Linked DNA regions of Homo sapiens. The protein of the gene in region 1 purifies or fractionates together with the protein of each later gene. This does not show direct contact. Each region holds a gene or a part of one and is shown on either strand. Other genes may lie near its edges. The genes, in order: CMTM2, MARCHF6 and PRADC1.

The links.
Region 2: the proteins of CMTM2 (region 1) and MARCHF6 purify together in Homo sapiens (affinity purification with mass spectrometry; one large-scale study listed by BioGRID and IntAct). This does not show direct contact.
Region 3: the proteins of CMTM2 (region 1) and PRADC1 purify together in Homo sapiens (affinity purification with mass spectrometry; one large-scale study listed by BioGRID and IntAct). This does not show direct contact.

What each region holds. Positions count from the first base shown.
Region 1 is NC_000016.10:66,582,396-66,585,709, reverse strand, and holds part of CMTM2 (CKLF-like MARVEL transmembrane domain-containing protein 2), read right to left. Parts: intron 1-3,314.
Region 2 is NC_000005.10:10,402,160-10,405,817, reverse strand, and holds part of MARCHF6 (E3 ubiquitin-protein ligase MARCHF6), read right to left. Parts: intron 3,455-3,658; exon of another isoform or gene 3,435-3,454; coding exon 3,366-3,434; intron 3,286-3,365; coding exon 3,211-3,285; intron 2,412-3,210; coding exon 2,277-2,411; intron 1,248-2,276; coding exon of another isoform or gene 1,197-1,247; exon of another isoform or gene 878-1,196; intron 261-877; coding exon 141-260; intron 1-140. UniProt on the Homo sapiens protein: Endoplasmic reticulum membrane-associated E3 ubiquitin ligase that plays a critical role in mitigating endoplasmic reticulum stress, the regulation of cholesterol and lipid homeostasis, and ferroptosis.
Region 3 is NC_000002.12:73,227,501-73,230,388, forward strand, and holds the end of PRADC1 (protease-associated domain-containing protein 1 precursor), read right to left. Parts: intron 2,714-2,888; coding exon 2,613-2,713; intron 2,071-2,612; coding exon 1,961-2,070; intron 1,463-1,960; coding exon 1,295-1,462; intron 1,075-1,294; coding exon 954-1,074; 3' UTR 510-953; downstream 1-509. UniProt on the Homo sapiens protein: Plays a role in the modulation of physical activity and adiposity.

The DNA.
Region 1 (3,314 bases):
CGTCCCCTTTAGGCCTCTTTGAAAACAAGAAGTCCAACTTCACGGATGGAGCTGCAGCCCCCTCGCTTCCTTCCCTTTTCCTGTCCCTCATGCCTCCCTCCTCCAACTTTTGGAAGCTGATGTGCAGTTTTCCTGTCTGAATTTGTGCTTTTCTACATATTATATATTTATAAACAATGTATACTATTTTGTGTATTTCAAAATACACTTTTTATATTTAAATAAAAAGTATCCTACCTTTCAATGCTTGCTTTTTGACTTTTGAGATTTATCCACATTGAGAAATATAGATTTATTAATTTTAACTGATGTAGCCTACTATATGAATGAACGAAATGAGACACAGGGTGTTTCTACCACTCACTGCAGTCTTGAACTCCTGGGCTCAAGTGATCCTCCCCACCTCAGCCTCAGCTGGGACTATAGGCACCTGCCACTGTGCAATTAAAAAAATTGTTTTTGTAAGCTGGGCGCAGTGGCTCACGCCTGTAATCCCAGCACTTTGGGAGGCTGAGGCGGGCGGATCACCTGAGGTTGGGAGTTCGAGACCAGCCTGACCAACATGGAGAAACCCCGTCTCTACTAAAAATACAAAATTAGCTGGGCGTGGGGGTGCATGCCTGTAATCCCAGCTACTCAAGAGGCTGAGGCAGGAGAATCACTTGAACCCGGGAGGCAGAGGTTGCGGTGAGCCGAGATTGCGCCATTGCACTCCAGCCTGGGCAACAAGAGCAAAACTCCATCTCAAAAAAAAAAAAAAAAAAATTGTTTTTGTAGAGGCAGGGCTTCCCTGTGTTGCCCAGGCTGGTCTCCAAGTCCTGGACTCCTGGACTCAAGTGATCCTCCTGCCTTGGCCTCCCAAAGTGTCGGGATTATAGGTGTGAGCCACTGTACCTGGCCTATGATGTCTTCTGTTGAAGTTTTAATTTTAATGGGATACATAGTCTGTCTCTCTCCCTCCCTTCCTCTCTGTCCACAAATCCCAGGGACATTTATTGAATATTCTATTCAACTGTTCTATAATGCTACCTCCGTCATATACCAAGTTGCCATATGTTTGTAGATCTATTTCTGAGTTCTCTTTTCTATCCCTGTATTAGTCTACTCAGGATGCCATAATAAAATATCCCAGACTGGGTGGCTTAAACAACAGACATTAACTTTCTCGCAGTTTTGGAGGCTGAAGTCCATGAGCAAGGTGCCAGGAAATTCAGTTTCTGGTGAGGGCTCTCTTCCTGGCTTGCAGATGGCTGTCTTCTCACTACGTTTTCACATGGCCTTTCTTTGATGCGTGCGTGTGTATGTGTGTGCATGTGTGTGTGTGTAGAGAGAGAGCAAGCGGGAGAGAGAATTCTCTGCTCTCTTATAAAGATACTGGCTGGGTGTGGTGGCTCACACCTGTAATCACAGCACTTTGGGAGGCCAAGGCAGGCAGATCACCTGAGGTCAGGAGTTCAAGACCAGCTAGGCCAACATGGCAAAACGCTGTCTCTAGTCAAAATTACAAAATTAGCCGGGCTTAGTGGCGCATGTCTGTAATCCTAGCTACTCAGGAGGCTGAGGCAGGAGAATGCTTGAACCAGGAGGTGGAAGTTGCAGTGAGCTGAGATTGTGCCACTGCACTCTAGCCTGGGTGACAAGAGCAAAACTCTGTCTCAAAACAAACAAACAAAAGACACTTATTTGATCAGGGCCCCAATGTTCTGACCTCATTTAACCTTAACTACCTCCTTAGAGGCCCATCTTCAAGTACAGTACAGTGGGGGTTAGGGCCTCAACGTATGATTTTGCAGAGTGGGAGACACAAACATTCAATCTGTAACAATTTTGTTAGTCTTCTTGTCAATCCCTGAGCTAGTACCAAAGCTTTATGGTAAATCTGATATCTTGTTGGGTGAGTCCATCCTTGTTAGTATTTTTTCTTCTTTGATAAGAATTTTAGAATCACCTTGTAAAAGTGCCATGAAAAACCCATGTTAGGTTGAAATTTTATTTAATTTATAGATTAATTCAGAATTGAATTGACATCTCTATGATAAGTTTTCATATTTGTGAATGTGGAATGTTTCTCTATTTACATTTTCCTTTGATGTCCATTACTAAAGTCTTATAATCTCTATGTAGTGTCTTACACATCTTTCAGTAGGTTTATTCTTAGACACCTTGTAGTTTGTGTTGCTGTTTTAAGTGATTTCTTTTAAAGAGCATTTTTTTTTTTTTGAGACAGTCTCGCTCTGTCACCCAGGCTGGAGTGCAGTGGCTCCATCTCGGCTCATGGCAACCTCTGCCTCCTGGGTTCTAGCGATTTTCATGCCTCAGCCTCTCGAGTAGCTGGGATTACAGGCATGCACCTCCATGCCTGGTTAATTTTTGTATTTTTAGTAGAGCTGGTGTTTCACCATGTTGGCCAGGCTGGTCTGGAACTCCTGGCCTCAAGTGGTCCACCCACCTCGGCCTCCCAAAGTGCTGGGAGTACAGCTGTGAGCCCCCGTGCCCAGCCAAAAAAATCCTATGTTTCTCATTGTTCATTGTTGGTATTCAGGAACACTACTGCTTTTGTGTCTGGTAACCTTGTGGAACTCAATCAGTTCTAGTGATTTGACTGTAGATTCTCTTAGATTTTCTGTGTAGATAATTCTATTAGATTTTTCCTCTTGTCAATCTCTATACCTTTTGTTTTTCTTGTCATATTGAACTAAGGTCTCTATCACAATGTTGAATACAAGAGAAGCTAGTAAGCATCTCTAAGGAAATGCTCCTGAAGTGTCACCTAAAATACAATTTGTGCAGGTTTGGATAGATGTCTATTTTATTTTATTTTATTTATTTATTTTTTGAGATGGAGTCTCACTCTGTCGCCCAGGCTGGAGTGCAGTGGCACGATCTCGGCTCACTGCAAGCTCTGCCTCCCGGGTTCATGCCATTCTCCTGCCTCAGCCTCCTGAGAAGCTGGGACTACAGGCACACATCACTGTGCCTGGCTTCTTGACACCTCTTTTATTATTTTTTAGACAGGGTCTCACTCTGTCACTCAGATTGGAGTGCAGTGGCACCATCAGAGCTCTCTGTAGCCTTGACCTCCTGGGTTCAAGCCATCCTCCCACCTCAGCCTCCTGAGTAGCTGGAACAACAGGCATGTGCCACCATGCTTGGCTAATTTTTAAATTTTTTTGTAGAGACAGGGTCTCCCTATGTTGTCCAGTCTGGTCTCAAACTCCTGGACCAAAGGGACCCATCCACCTCAGCCTCCCAACGTGCTGGGATTACAGGTGTGAGCCACCACACCCAGCCCAACAACCACTGATGGATGTTCT
Region 2 (3,658 bases), on another chromosome or scaffold:
CTGAATACCACAGGCTTAGATAAATATATTATTCAATATACTCTATCAGCCTGCTTGAGAACTGGAAAAAAAAACCTAAACAAAACTATAGGTTAGCACAATTAATTCAAAAAAAAAAAACAATGGAAACATCTTCTTACCACTGACAAAATAAATCTTCGGAGATGCCTATATATTGGCAAATGGATCATTTCCTGTACTGGATTGAAATCTGGATCATTCAAATTCCTTAGAAACCACAGGACACCAGGTCGAAGTACCTGCAAATATATTTTAAATACTATGAATATTCACCAATGTCTTCAAATTCTATATATGAGCTAAAACATTAACAGAAAGATAAGCACTTAGAATTATTCTGGCATCTAAAGTGGGCCCCAGAAAATGTACATGGTATTCTTAGGAAAGTAAGTTCCTAAACCAGAATCTTTATGAAAACTACCCTGTGTCTGATGATGTCCTTTGACATCATCATTCACTAGGGGCGGGGGAAAAAAAAAACATTCATTGGGTCCAATGTGTCAAGAAATCTAGACCTCTGAGACGAAAAATAAATACAACCATTACTATCGTAAAAGGGTTATGTTGCAATTTATAAATGTACTAAATAGACGGTCTGATTTGCCTTCCCCCTGTAAATGAAAATCATCACCCAAGAGGCTGCAGGTGATGGGGTAAAGGAGGAGTCTGGGTACTAGTTCTATGTGGTCCAAACTCACTGAGTTACCCTCTGTGTAACGCATCTAATCTGCCCAAACTTCTATTCTCCATCTCCTAAACAAGGGGTTACAGTGTGTGATTTCTAAGGTTCTGCCTAAGTTCCACATATTAAAATTTTATATCAACAAAAACCACCACACTGATAAAATGAAAGAAATCATTATAAAGCATTTTATTCACTTAATGAAGTAATCTGGAGTTCACATATAATTACATTTTTAAGAAACACATTTCTGTACTTGCTTTAGTTCTCAATCAGTTGTTTCAAAGAAAGAATGAAAGCTTTAGTTACCAAGAGAATTTACTGAAATTATACCGTATGATTCAGGAGAATGCTTTGGTCCCTGACCCCTCCTCCTCTTCCTCAAATCTTTCAAAGAACAAAGTACACCAAGAGCAGCATTCAGCCTTTGTGCTTTTGTGTTCCCTTCTCACTGGAATTGTCAACCTGGTCCTCCACACCCTGCACATCTCCATCACCCGTCTCCGTGTAAACCAACATTTTCAATGCTGTATTCATTTTCAGGCTATAAAATCGAGGAGAACAGGAATTGTGCCTTTGTTTCTCACTGAAACCCCAGAATGCAGTATAGTGTCCGGCACACAGTGACCATTCAGTATTTGGGGAATGACTGAGCTTGAGATGTACACTAATCAAATACTCAACTGCTTTCATCATCTTCAAATCACTAAGAACCAGATTAGAAACATAGAACTAATAAAGGTATCAGGCCAGGCACAGTGGCTCACACCTGTAATCCCAGCACTTTGGGAGGCCAAGGTGGGTGGATCATTTGAGGTCAGGAGTTCAAGAACAGCCTGGCCAACATGGTGAAACCCTGTCTCTACTAAAAATACAAAAATTAGCCGGGCATGGTGGTGGGTGCCTGCAGTCCCAGCTACTTGGGAGGTTCAAGCAGGAGAATCACTTGAACTTGGGAGGTGGAGGTTCCAAGATCATGGCACTACATTCCAGCCTGGGCAACAGAGCAAGACTCAGTATCAAAAAGTAAATAAGTAAATAAATAAATAAATAAATAAATAAATAAATAAATAAATAAATAAAGGTAATCCATCAGGCCAGTGAACTGGAATCATAAAGGACCCTCATTGTAATTCTATACTTAAGGCGCCTAAATCAAAATGATTTTACATGTCTGATCCTGCAAAACCATATCCTTTTGGTTATTTCCAGCAGTACAGTTCCTTGAAGTCTGAGACACACTCACATCATACAAAATTCCAAGAGTCTGTATTAGAGGATGGCTAAAGTATATACGAAGTGTGACAAAATGAGTACTCTTATCTTTTTCCTCAGTTGAATCGTCTTTCAAACTCAGACAGAAATATTAAAACTTGCCAATTATGGAGACAAACAACTGAAACAGTTTAAAGTAATTAAGTCAAAGTCCCCTATAAGTTATTCCCTCTTAGAATAAAATAGTAGAGAATATGATTTAGGTAGGAAATCATCATAGCCTTTGAGACATGACTGGTGGTGAAAGCAAAAGTCCTTTTTATAAATGTACAGCATCAGCATTTCCCTGTGGACTTACCTCTCTCAGTAGTAGAATGAAGGAGGCAAAGTAGAAGACATATACCATTCCCACTAGCCAATGCAGAAACATGGTAGTACCTGGAGCCGACTGAAAGCTCAGTTCTCGATCTTTCAGAGTAGCATCAAACATTTCCTGAGACAAAAGAGGACAGGTAAGAGAAATCTGTGCCCCCTACATTTGCCAAGTTAACATTTTCATCTTCTAGGAAATAAATAATCAATATGCATGCAAGGAACAATTCCTAGAACTGCAGTTCACTTAATGTCATTCCACGGTGTCACAGAACTATATACAAGATTGGCTACTGCTTCAAATATAAAGAATGATAAACCAATTAGTAAAAGCTTTATTAATACTGATTCTATTAAAGAACTATTTTTGATGAATGTAAAAAATTTTCTTGGTTATAGGTCTGCATTCTTGAGAAGTTTTAAAAGTAAGGTATGGGAGGGTAAATGTTATCTCAGAACCAAAGGCAGCTTTTCTACACATAAAATATTTTTGAAACAATCAAAAACTGATTATCACTAACAGCAATTAAAGAGTATAATCAAGACTGAGCATATTAGTTAAATCAAATGATTAGGGTTAAATTTATTACTACAAAGACAGTTTCCTTATCAAATTATTCTCTATGTATATAATGTCTTGGCATTATCTACACAAATTTACGACAGCAAAATGGGCAATAAAATCCTCCACTATTAGAAAGATTCCACCCAAACTATCCTGACATCAAAAATTTGCACAAAGCCTCAAAAACTCAGGTACTCAAGAAAAATTAACATTAAGATCCTATACTGATACACATGCCAAAAGAATAAGCAAATTATCAAATATTTGCTTTCCTTTAAAAAGAATACATGCTGAAGACTTCCTCTTTTGAAGCCCTTAAATTATGCTATTATACAATAATGAATACTCAACTTACCAAGGAACAGATATCCAGCCACCAACCACAAATGAGAGGGAATACTCCAATTTCTACCACCACTAACAAAGAGACCTTAAGTGAAAATAAAGGTCATCAGTATCACCCAAATGTAGGAGAAATCATTTCCAATTTTAAGTTATAACAGGAATTACCTTAACAACAATATAGCAGACTCCCAGTAAGCGACGAGATCTATGAAATTTCACAAGAGTTGCCAAGCCCTACAGCATCAGGTCAAGGAAAAACTGAGTATTTAAAGGTACAATGAAACAGGTAACTACTTAGCCAACATTTAGTATTTTTTGACAGAATTAATTTATTTCACATTTTGTCCACACTGACCCTTACTGCAAATACCTACAACTTTTACTAAGAGGACAAGGATAGACAAGTTTCGCCATTAATGAAGAGTTCTTTGGTATGAATAATATTAGTGTACACCCAA
Region 3 (2,888 bases), on another chromosome or scaffold:
CAATCATAGCTCACTACAGCCTTGAACTTCTGGGCCCAAGTGATCCTCCCACCTCCGCCTCCTGAGTAGCTGGGACTATAGGCTCACACCACCACACCCAGCTAATTTTTAATTTTTCTGTAGAGATGGGATCTTGCTATGTTGTTGCCAAGGCTGGTCTTGAATTCTTGGCCTCAACTGATCCTCCCACCTCGGCCTCCCAAAGTGCTGGGATTACAGGCATGGGCCACCATGCCTAGCCCTGAGGTCCAGTTTGGACCCCCAGTTCCAGGCTCTAAGATGAGTCTTCTCCTGAGGGGCTGAACTCTGGCTTCCCAGGGCTTCCTTGGCTCCTAGCAGGAAGCTGTGCTGGGATCTAAGACTAGCAGTCTGAGCACTGGTCCCAAATGACCTAGGCCAGTCACTGTCCTCTGTGGGTGTTTCCTTTCCTCAGAACGACAGTATGGGACGATACGAGTGAGTTTGAAGGTCCTGCCCACCCGTGTGCTCTTATTCTAGGACACAGTTGCAACCCTGATGAGAAGCTTTATTGCTAAAAAGTCAGTGAGGGTTTATTGAGTCCCCAAACACCAGCTCTTTAAACCACTCCAACAACTGCTGTGAAGGTCACTGTGCAGAGACCCTGGGTAGGGGAGGCTGGAGCCAGGTGAGTGTGACAGGTCACAGATGGCTCTCAGGCCACCTGCCTTCAGCTCCTTTTGTTTCGGGTTCTAGCCAGAAGCCCTGGGGCCTGTCTCTTGCCTCTTCTTGTAGCATGAGACACCCTTGGGGGCCCTGGGGAAGGGAAGGCCAGTGGTGTGGCTTCCCTTTCAGCCTAGCAACGCCCAAACCCTTTTCCTCTACCTGGCTCCACTTGTCCCCAGATGCTATCTCCAAATTCCAAGTAGCAAAATTCCTGGGTTTCCCCTTCCCAGCTCAGAGTCACTTATGGCTGGAATGTGGGACAAACTCTTCTACCAGAAGGTCCAGGGCGGTTGCAGCAGCTCAAAGGTGGGGATGCTGGTGACATTGACTGGGATGGAAATGATGGCCCATGGCAGCCCATGCTGTTCCAGAGAGCGGCGGATCATGTAGCTGGGAGGGCATGAAGAGAGGTGGTGACGGTCACTTTCTTGGTACCCCATCATGCCCCACTGTCCCCATCAATCTGGGAGTTCCAAAGCCCGAGATCTTTTTTTGCCCTCTAACTGAAGCACCCCAAGTTGAGGCCTGCAAGAAGGGACTGGTGATTACCCCTGACCCAGTCATGGCGCCCAGCCTGGTGCTGATAAAGCCAGAGGCAAGGAGCCCTCACCCGTCTCGGCCGAGCAGGAAGAGGGCGGGGATGTCAGCTGTGCGCTGGGTACTGTCCTGGATCATCTCCACGTAGAAGCTGTCATTGTCAACTGCGTTGTCAGAGATGATCACCGCCCGCCCGCCGTGCTCCTGGACCACCCGAGTCTTGGAGAGGAAGGAGCAGCCCCTGGAAGAGGTGGTGATAAGACCAAAGGAAAGACAGGTCCTAGCTCCCCCTTCCCCAGACCATCACCCTGGGAGTATAGAAGGCAGACTATGAAGAATCTGTTATAAAGGCTCATAAGTAAATAGCTAAAAGCATGGATAATTTAAATACATTTCTTTTTCCTTTTTCTTTTTTTTTGGAGACTGGGTTTTGCTCTGTTGCCCAGGCTGGAGTGCAGTGACGTGATCTCGGCTCACTGCAGCCTTAACATGCGGTCAAGCAATCCTCTCACCTCAGCCTCGAGTAGCTGGGACCACAGGTGTGCACCACCATGCCCAGCTAATTTTTGTATTTTTTGTACAGACAGGGTTTCTCCATGTTGCCCAGGCTAGACATTTCTTAAAGACGCTTAAAAAGATGAAATTTTCAAAAACAGCTCTTTCAAAGCACTACTACCAATAATCTCAGAATCTGCCGTATGCCTGCCCACTCCTCGTGTCCTGCCTGCCCACTCCTTACCCCCTCTCCACCAGAGCAATCTGGTCCTGGATGAAGAAACCGTTGCTGAGTTCCCCGCAGGCCTCTGGAGGTTCAGCGGGGACAAGGTGAATCTGCTCATACCTTGTGTGCTGAAAAACATTTAACATTTGGACAGGTGAGAGTGTAATGAGACACACCTGCTTTAGGACTGGGCTGACAATCCCATCTTATTGGCACCTTATAAAGTGTGAAGGAAACATGGAGTGGTTTCTGTATCGCCAGACACTTAAACATTTTTACTTAATTCTCGCAAAGGCCTATCTGGTTGTCCTACACCACCCTACCCTTCTATGAGATAGGCAGGGGACTTGGTTGTAGATCCAGAGAGAGGAAGTGATGTGCCTTAAGTCACATAGTTCACAGGTAGAGCTGGCAGAGGAAGCTGGTGCTCTTGGCTTTTCACTTCATGTCCCCTAAAAAGACAACTTGTCCCTCCATGGTGCCTAGGTTTATATTATACTCAGGGGAGTAGCTGGAAGAGCTTCCTTTCTGTGCTGCAGCTCATGGAAGGCAGAGCTGATTCTGCTCCCTTCCCTGTCCCAGCACTCAGGTGGGATGAGAGGGTCACTGCAGCTCAGTGAGGGGAAGGGGGAGGTTGAGGATCAGAGATCAGGGGCCTCCCTTAACTTACAAAGATACCACCAAAGTCCTTGGCAGGTGTGGCTGTGAAGATGTATCGAATGTCCCCAGGACTCAGCACTTGAAAGTACAAATAATCATGGATACGGAAGCCTGAAGGATAAAGAGTACAGGTAAGAAGCCTCCCAGGAACAAGCTGGTTCAGGTTCAGATCCCAGACCCTGTGTCTTCAGCTGGGCTGGCTATAGTCTGGGCTCAGGGTCCTGGCTTCAGCCAACGGGGTCCACTAGTGGCAGGGTTGGGGGCTAGATGGCCTCTGTCCTGGGGA